Linked DNA regions of Homo sapiens. The protein of the gene in region 1 purifies or fractionates together with the protein of each later gene. This does not show direct contact. Each region holds a gene or a part of one and is shown on either strand. Other genes may lie near its edges. The genes, in order: CCNA2, SCAPER and PHF8.

The links.
Region 2: the proteins of CCNA2 (region 1) and SCAPER purify together in Homo sapiens (affinity purification with mass spectrometry; 5 studies listed by BioGRID and IntAct, with this or other methods). This does not show direct contact.
Region 3: the proteins of CCNA2 (region 1) and PHF8 purify together in Homo sapiens (affinity purification with mass spectrometry; 5 studies listed by BioGRID and IntAct, with this or other methods). This does not show direct contact.

What each region holds. Positions count from the first base shown.
Region 1 is NC_000004.12:121,818,325-121,820,952, forward strand, and holds part of CCNA2 (cyclin-A2), read right to left. Parts: intron 2,442-2,628; coding exon 2,218-2,441; intron 1,256-2,217; coding exon 1,048-1,255; intron 590-1,047; coding exon 476-589; intron 1-475. UniProt on the Homo sapiens protein: Cyclin which controls both the G1/S and the G2/M transition phases of the cell cycle. Functions through the formation of specific serine/threonine protein kinase holoenzyme complexes with the cyclin-dependent protein kinases CDK1 or CDK2.
Region 2 is NC_000015.10:76,769,274-76,772,931, forward strand, and holds part of SCAPER (S phase cyclin A-associated protein in the endoplasmic reticulum), read right to left. Parts: intron 2,682-3,658; coding exon 2,469-2,681; coding exon of another isoform or gene 2,451-2,468; intron 1-2,450. UniProt on the Homo sapiens protein: CCNA2/CDK2 regulatory protein that transiently maintains CCNA2 in the cytoplasm.
Region 3 is NC_000023.11:54,034,403-54,038,060, forward strand, and holds part of PHF8 (histone lysine demethylase PHF8), read right to left. Parts: intron 1-3,658. UniProt on the Homo sapiens protein: Histone lysine demethylase with selectivity for the di- and monomethyl states that plays a key role cell cycle progression, rDNA transcription and brain development.

The DNA.
Region 1 (2,628 bases):
CTCGATCCATTTTCTACTACTTTCCCTGCCAGCAACAGGTCAGATGCTTTTAAAAAAGCTCACCTTTCAATCCAAGTTACAACTAAGCTTACTACCTAACAAACACTGTTCAACAGGTAACATGCCTTAAACAGTATATAATCATCCCTCAGTGTACATGAGGGATTGGTTCCAGGACCCTTCCCAAATATACCCAAATCTGTACATATTCAAGTCCTGCAGTCACCCTTCCATATATATGGGTTGTGAATCCCCTGAATACTGTAGTTTCAGTCCACATTTGATTGGAAAAAAATCCATGTGTAAGTGGACTCACACAGTTCAAACCTGTGTTTTTCAAAGGTCAACTATATATATTTGAAGTTTTTCCAAGTAAGAACATCTAGGCAACCCTCAGTTTTGTAGGACAATTATTATTTAATCTGGCACAGGCATTTCAGTCACAAGATAGGTGTGTGAAGACCGTAATACATACCCAGCTTTGTCCCGTGACTGTGTAGAGTGCTAAATGAAAGGCAGCTCCAGCAATAACTGATGGCAAATACTTGAGGTATGGGTCAGCATCTATCAAACTTAATTCTCCCAAAAACTGGAATAAAAAATACTTTATGATCACAAGAGCGTTTAGAATTCAAATGTCAAACCTCTGCCTTCTAACCTAATTTTTTCCTGCCTTTGATAACGGCTCTGTAGCAACTCTAGAAAAAATATCTCACAGCCTCATCTTTAAACATATCAATCATTTTAGTGTTTTGTTCCATCCTCATCCTGTATTTTCCCTCCTTTATTAACTTTTAAAAAACAACTCTTCTGACTACCCATCCCCAAGATGTCATCCTTAGACCTCTGCTTCTAGTGCTTTCCTGATATAGATTATCTTTTGCCAGCAGTAGGCTTTCTTCCATACTGCAGCATTAATCTCCCTCTGAATACTAAATCTCTTCACCACTGCTGTACAAAGGAACTAGGTTCCTTTACAAAGGAATTAGGGCTTACCCCTAATTATTACCAAAGAATCACCATTCAACAAAATGAAAGTTAACTCACCATTGCTAAACTTTCAACTTTGCAGTTTGCAGGCTGCTGATGCAGAAAGTATTGGGTAAGAAACTGATTTACTGTTGGAGCAGCTAAGTCAAAAGTAAGGACTTTCAAAACTAGATGCTCCATTCTCAGAACTTGTTTCTTGGTGTAGGTATCATCTGTAATGTACACAAACTCTGCTACTTCTGGGGGGTATATTTCTTCAAACTTTCTACAATGAAAAAAGTTTTAAGTAATCAGTCCTAAAAGAGAAGCAAGCTTCCTTATCCCAGTTCTGAAATCCCATTAGCAGAATATGGAATGAATCCAAAATCCACACCAACTGCATTTCCAGACACTTGATCATCATTTCTAGTAGAGACTGGATAGCTAATTGCTAATTAAAAGGCCCAAATCAATAAAGGACTTTTGAGATATTTTCCCCAGTTCAGTCAAAGGAAGTAAATGAAAGGCATGAGACTTCTCGAGATGGGAACAATGCCAGAGTTCACCAAGTAGCTGAAAATTTAGGAAATACAAGTCTTAGGAAAACATGTTTCATGTTTTCATTTTTAAATTTAGTTTTTCTTTCTTTTTTTTTTTTTTTTTTGAGACAAGAGTCTTGCTCTGTCGCCCAGGCCAGAGTGCAGTGGTGCAATCTTAGCTCGCTGCAACTTCCACCTCCTGGGTTCAAGCGATTCTCTTGCCTCAGCCTCCCTAGTAGCTGAGATTACAGGCATGCATCACCATGCCCAGCTAATTTTTGTATTTTTAGTAGAGACAGGGTTTCGCCATGATGGCCAGGCTGGTCTCAAACTCCTGACCTCAAGTGATCCGCCCACCTCGGCCTCCCAAAGTGCTGGGATTACAGGCGCGAGCCACCGCACCCAGCCTTTACTTCTTAATAAAAGAGACACTGCTTATATGCCAGAAAGTAATATTGGAAGGAAAATGTTTTAAAATTTGTAACCTAGTGTACTATATCATGTTCAAGGAATCCAGTTGGGGGAAAATTAGTGTTCTAGATTAGAACAGTTTCATCCTCCTCCACTGCCCTAAGCCCCAGCACATTGCCATCCCTAAAGTAGTCACTGACTCTGCCTGGTGTATGTTAAAAGGTCACCATTAAAAAAATCAATTTCTTCCCTAGACAAAAGGTCGTGATCACTTTTAAACAAACCAAGGTAGACTTACGAGGCTAACAGCATAGCAGCAGTGCCCACAAGCTGAAGTTTTCCTCTCAGCACTGACATGGAAGACAGGAACCTATCAATGTAGTTCACAGCCAAATGCAGGGTCTCATTCTGTAGTTTATATTCTTCTCCTACTTCAACTAACCAGTCCACGAGGATAGCTCTCATACTGTTAGTGATGTCTGGCTGTTTCTTCATGTAACCCACTTTAGGTTTACATTTAACCTATTGAGAAAATTATTTATAGTGTTAAAATTATTCTAGTGTAAAAACTGCAATTAGATTATTTTACCATTAATTACGAGAGGCTACATGCTATAAACTTAACTGTAGCATTAGAATAATTCATTAGTTTAAAAATTTAAACATTATCCTCTCAATTTCATTTAGCCACATTTAACAAATACATTAT
Region 2 (3,658 bases), on another chromosome or scaffold:
CTACTAAAAAATACAAAAAATTAGCCAGGCGTGGTGGCAAGCGCCTGTAGTCCCAGCTACTCGGGAGGCTGAGGCAGGAGAATGGCGTGAACCTGGGAGGTGGAGCTTGCAGTGAGCCAAGACTGCACTACTGCACTCTGGCCTGGGGGACACAGTGAGACTCTGTCTCAAAAAAAAAAAAAAAAAAAAAGAGAGTGAAAGAAAAAAACAACCCCATCAAAAAGTGGGCAAAGGATATGAACAGACATTTCTCAAAAGAAGACATTTGTGCAGCCAACAGACACATGAAAAAATTTTCATCATCCTGCTCATCAGAGAAATGCAAATCAAAACCACATAAGATACCATCTCACACCAGTTAGAACGGCGATCATTAAAAAGTCAGGAAACAACAGATGCTGGAGAGGATGTGGAGAAATAGGAATGCTTTTACACTGTTGGTGGGAGTGTAAATTAGTTCAACTATTGTGGAAGACTTGGTGGGAGTGTAAATTAGTTCAACTATTGTGGAAGACAGTGTGGTGATTCCTTAAGGATCTAGAACTAGAAATACCATTTGACCCAGCGATCCCATTACTGGGCATATACCCAAAGGATTATAAATCATTCTACGATAAAGACACACGCACACGTATGTTTATTGCAGCACTATTCACAATAGTAAAGACTTGGAACCAACCCAAATGTCCATCAATGATAGACTGGATTAAGAAAATGTGGCACATATATACCAGGGAATACTATGCAGCCATAAAAAAGGATGAGTTCATGTCCTTTGCAGGGACATGGATGAAGCTGGAAACCATCATTCTAAGCAAACTATCACAAGGACAGAAAACCAAACACCACATGTTCTGACTCATAGGTGGGAGTTGAACAATGAGAACACATGGACACAGGGCGGGGAACATCACATACCTGGGCTGGTCAGGGGGTGGGGGGCTGGGGGAGGGATAGCATTAGGAAAAATACCTAAAGTAAATGACGAGTTGATGGGTGCAGCAAACCAACATGGCACATGTATACCTATGTAACAAACCTGTACATTGTGCACATGTACCCTAGAATTTAAAGTATAATTTTAAAAAAAAAAGAAAGAAAAGAAAAAACAGTTGTCTCATCACTACAGGAATTCTCTGTAACTCTCCACTTGGGAACTAAACAATAAGGTGCTTATCACCTTATCACCCTTGGTTTGTCAAAACAAAACAAAAAGTATTCTTAACACCTCTAAGAATACACTAATATCCACATTAAAGCAGAATTTATTTTCTTTCAAGTATGCAAATTTGACCCTCAAAATAACCAAAAGGGTTTATGACTCTGCAAGTTTATATATGTGATGAAAATAAAAATAATGAGGTCAGAATTTTTAATTATTTCATGCTTATTTAAGGATGAGAGTTTTCCTCTTTTAAAATTTGATTCTCACAGAATCAAACTGAAAAATATACAATTTGATATACAACTGCTAAAACAAAATAAATGACCAAATTCCACCCCATACAATAAACTCACTACTTATTTGAGCATAATTATGTTCAACATTTAGAAATGTTCATTACTAAAAGACACAAGATGAAAATCAATTGTTCTACCTTATTAAAAGAATCTAAACATTTGTTTTTTGTATTACTATAACCTTTTCCTTTTTACCCTTAAACAACCAATATCAAGTTTCATCTCTACTGTTATTATCCCTATAAAATGTATAATTTTACCTAATACCATGTGTTGTTAAGATCTGTCAGCATTAGGCATTAAATTTTAGAAGAAATTATAGTCCACAGCAGCCTTTAAAAAGTAAAAATTAAGTAATTTTTCACAGCTTTTTATATGTGCCTATTTCTTTGGAAAGCTAGTTTTTAAACAAAGTTAGCATGATTTATTCTGGATTATCCCCAGGTCAAGTATCCTAATACTAAAATGAGCAAAAGGAAGAGATGGGTAGAAATATGTTATCATCCAAAACCATAAATCTATAAATAATCACAAATCAATGCATTTTTAGAGATTCTGGAATAGGGATGGTAAATAAATTTCATCTTAAAGACCAACTCCAAGCAAATGATAGTGGCTGTCTAAAGTACTCTGTTAAGAAAGTTTTTAAAACTAAGTCTAGCAGACACCATTTCCCATCTATCAGAATGCTAGATGTAGCATAGAAGACTTTATTGTTACTAGTTTAGATTCTTAATTCTGGGCTAAGAGCATTTGATCAAATCACATACAAACCAAATGATTTTGAACAAGTCACTTAACTCTCACAATCTCACTTTCTTCCTCTAAAAAATAAGAATCTTAACTATATCAAAAGTTTACCAAAATAATAAAATGTTAAAATGAAATAAATATATAAAAATGCTTTAAAAAGTATAAATCATACAAGTTATTATTATTGGGGTTTATGCTTCTTAAATATACTCAGAATTCTGATAAGTTGTTCTTACCAAGTTAGCAGCACTCACATTTGAAATATCTGAAGGGTCCATTTCATTTTCTATCCTTGCTTTCTCTGCTGGAAATTTTTCTTCATTTACTTGTAAAGGAGGTGTACCAGCTTGCAGCATAACTGAAACACACTCTGTATCAATGTGGACAGCAGATATTTCAGAAGTTCGAACATAATTGTCTCGAATACTGCCAGAATTCTTCACATCATCCAATGTACTCACTGTGAACTAACAAAACGTAGAGAATGAATCAGAGATAATTAAAAAATACCAACTATTCCACTTTAGAAGAAGAGATGATTTTGCTTAACCTATTAACTATGAAGAAGAAGAGGTACTTGACTGGATGACAGAAAATTTACTCATCTTTTTTGTATGTTTCAAGTGTAACAAAAGGACAGGGACCATTAAGCACAAATTTTACTTGCATGCCTACTATGTACTGGGCACTATCCAAAGTTTTCTAAGAAATTAAGCAATTTATATTGTAATTTTCTTGTAGTAGGCCAATTTGTGATGAGTATTTTGTATCCTTCGCAAATGAAATCTAGTCACAAGTATGAGGCATTCATTCACTGTATTATACTCATACAACCAAAAGTATTTACATGGTCTTTTGCAAAGACTGTCTAATATCAAATGAGGACATTCAGTACTTTTGAAAAAATCCTGAAACCAATTTTTACAACAATATATTTGGAGGGCATTTTACACAAAAATATAAAACTTATTCTCTTCAGATAATATTAACATGATCTCAAAGTATCTTTGTTAAAAATTCATATGGTACATGAACCCAATTCTCCGATCTGAAAGAGAAAAGCATGACCTAAGGGTGAAGATTGAAAGCATGTAGTGTCTCATTATGACATTCATACACTTTAGATTTAGATATCTTCCCTATTGTCCTTTAGGAATATTTAATAACAAACCAACAGAAATGTAAATACAATATAAAAAGCAAACAGTGGCTTAGGCTAAATACATACCCATTTTTTAAAAACCTTCCAATTTAGCAGAGTCAAGCCTTTATTTTTACTTTGGACAGAGAAGAGAAACAATAGTACTGTGTTTTCCAATGATACTCTAAGTCAAAGAACTAAAATCTAAAATTATGAATTTAAAACTCCCATCACTTCTTAAATAAACATTAGATAAATGCTGCAGTGGCCATAAACCTCCCCCCAGTTTGATTAATTATTTAT
Region 3 (3,658 bases), on another chromosome or scaffold:
TGAGATAAAAGAACTAGAAACCCAGAGTTCGATATGAAGTGAAAAGATCCCCTAAGAATTCAAGGGAAATCAAGATATTCTCAGATTAAGGAAAACTAAACGTATCTGTTGCCAACACTTATCCTAAAAGAATGAGTAGGCTGGGCACAGTAGCTCATGCCTGTAATCCCAGCACTTTGGGAGGCCGAGACGTGTGGATCATTTGAGGTCAGGAGTTCAAGACCAGCCTGGCCAAGATGGTGAAACCCCGTTTCTACTAAAAATACAAAAAATTAGCTGGGCGTGGTGGCGGGCGCCTGTAATTCCAGCTACTCTGGAGGCTGAGGCAGAGAATTGTTTAAACCTGGAGGGGCGGAGGTTGCAGTGAGCCGAGATCACGCCACTGCACTCCAGCCTGGGCGACAGAGCGAGACTTCGTCTCAAAAAAAAAAAAAAAAAAAAAAAAAATCAGCCAGGCATAGTGGTGCATGCCTGTAGTCCCAGCTACTGGGGGGTGGGGGGCTGAGGTGGGAGGATCACTTGAGCCCAGGAGGTTTAGGCTGCAGGTGAGCCGTGACTGTTCCACTACACTCCAGCCTGGGCAACACAGCAAGACTCTGTCTCAACAACAACAAAACGATTAATTAGATTATAAACAAAAGAGCATTAAGGCATATAAAGAAAAGTAAAGTTTCAACCGGACATGGTGGCTCACGCTTGTAATCCCAGCACTTTGGGAGGCTGAGGCGGGCAGATCATGAGGTCAGGAGTTCGAGACCAACCTGGTCAACATAGTGAAAACTCGTCTCTACTAAAAATACAAAAATTAGCCGGCTATGGTGGACCACACCTGTAGTCCCAGCTACTCGGGAGGCTAAGGTGGGAGAATCGCTTGAACCCAGGAGGCAGAGGTTGCAGTGAGCCGAGACCACATCATTGCACTCCAGCCTGGGTGACAGAGTGAGACTCTGTCTCAAAAAAAAAAAGGAAAAAGAAAAGTAAAGTTTCTACTCTTCAATCAAACTGGTAAAATGTCAAGAGCAGTTGCTTATGGTAAGTTATATGTATAATGTAATACCTAGAGCAAGTACTGAAAAAAGCAATACAGAGATAACTCGGGCCAAGAGCAGTAGTTCATGCCTGTAATCCCAGCACTTTGGGAGGCTGAGGTGGGAGGATCATCTGAAGCCAGAAGTCCAAGACCATCCCAGGCAACAAAGGGAGGTACCACCAACCTACACCCACACCCTCCCCACACAAAAAATTTTAAAAATTAGGGCACACAGTGGCACATGCTTGCAGTTTCAGCTATTGTAGAGGCTGAAGCATGAGGAGATTGCTTAAGCCCTGGAATTTGAGGCTGCAGTAAACCATGATCAAACCACTGCACTCCAGCCCAGGTGACATAGAGACCCTGTCTCAAAAATAAATGAATGAATGAATGAGTAGGCCGAGTGCAGTGGCTCACACCTGTAATCCCAGCACTTTGGGAGGCCGAGGCAGGCGGATCACCTGAAGTCAGAAGTTCAAGACCAGCCTGACGAACATGGAGAAACCCCGTCTCTACTAAAAATACAAAATTAGCTGGGCGTGGTGGCACATGCCTGTAGTCCCAGCTATTCAGGAGGCTGAGGCAGAAGAATCGCTTGAACCTGGGAGCCGGAGGTTGCGGTGAGCCAAATCGCGCTCCAGCCTGGGCAACAAGAGCGAAACTCCATCTCAAAAAAAAAAAAAAAAAAGAAAAGAAAAAAGAAAAAATCAGCAAGGATTAGAAGAATTCAGCAACACCATTAACCAACAGTAGTTAATTGACATTTATAGAACACTCTACCCAAAAATGGCAGAATACACATTCTTTTCGAGTGATCATGAAACATTTACCAAGATAGACTCTGGGCTATAAAACAAATCTCAATAAATGTAAAGGAATTGAAATCATACAAAGTATATTCTCTGACCACTATCAAACTAGAAGTCAGTAACAGAACGATAACAGGAAACTCTACAAAAACTTCAAAATTAAACAACATACTTCTATACTTCATGGGTCAAACAGGAAGTTTCAAGGGGAATTTAAAAATGCCTTGAGGCAGCAGGAGGATCACTTTAGCCCAGGAGCTGGAGGCTGCAGTGAGAGCTATGATCCTGCCTCTGCAGTACCGCCTGGGCAACAGACTGAGACACTGTCTCAAAAAAAAAAAAAAAAAAAAAAAAAAAAACTTTTTTTTTTTTTAATGCCTTGAACTACATGAAAAGGGAAAATGTAACATATTAAAATCTATTGGTGCTGAGAAGAAACTTAACAGCTAAAGGCTTACATTAGAAAAGAAAGAAAGGCCGGGTGCTGTGGGTCACGCCTGTAATCCCAACACTTTGGGAGGCCGAGGCGGGTGGATCACCTGAGGTCAGGAGTTCGAGACTAGCCTGGCCAACATGGTGAAACCCCATCTCTATTAAAAATACAAAAAATTAGCTGGGCGTGGTGGCGAGCGCCTATAATCCCAGCTAGTAGGGAGGCTGAGGCAGGAAAATCACTTGAACCCGGGAGGTGGAGGTTGCAGCGAGCCGAGATCGCGCCATTGCACTCCAGCCTGGGCAACAGGCTGTTTCAGAAAAAATAAAAAAAAAAAAAAAAAGAAAAGAAAGTCTCAAATCAATAATCTAATCTCCCACCTCAAGAAACTAGATAGAGAGCAAAATAAACCAAAGGAGGAAAAAAATAGTAAAGGCAGAGATCTATTAAATTGAAAACAGAAAGACAACAGAAAAAGTCAATGAAACAAAAAGCTTGTTCTTTGAAAAGATCCATAAAACTGACAAACCTCTAGCAAGTCTGACAAATACGAAGACAAATTTTTTTTGTTTGTTTGTTTTCGGTTTTTTTGAGACAGGGTCTCGCTCTGTCACCCAGGCTGGAGTGTAGTGGCATGATCACAGTTCACTGAGGCCTCAACTTCCTGGGCTCAAGCAATCCTCCCACCTCAGCCTCCCGGGCAGCTGGGACTATAAGCATGTGCCACCCACCCTGCTAATTTTTGTATTTCTTGTAGAGACGGGGTTTTACCATGTTGCCCAGGCTGGTTTTGAACTCTTGGGCTTAAGCAATCCACCAGCCTTGGCCTCCCAAAGTGCTGGGATTATAGGCATGAATGACATCACATGCCCAGCCTGATACATTTTTAGTATCACTAATGAAACAAAATTATCACTACAGCACCTGAAGATATCAAAAGGATAATAAAGAAATACTATGAACAATTCTACAAACATAAATTTGACAACTTAGATGAAATGGGTCAATTCTCGGAAAGTACACATCCAACATAAAATAGGTAATTTGAATAGTCCTATAACTACTAAATGGAATAATTTTTAAAACTCCCCCAAAAGATAAAGATAATTAGGCGAAGTGGTTAGCATAGTGAGTGGAACACTAGCTTGTGCTCAATAAACGATAGCTATAACCATTTTATTTAAATCATCACAACCTCTCAGGGAAACTAAGGCTTCACAGATAAGAAATTATTTGCTAATATGTAACAGAATCAGAATTTGAACCCAGATCTGAAATCAGTGTCCTTTCCTCTAGAGTTAAAAATCCACACCAAAGTTATTCCCTTGGGCATGTATCAACCAATATTTCTTTTATAAACAGGAAAACTGTAGAGTGAAATTTGTG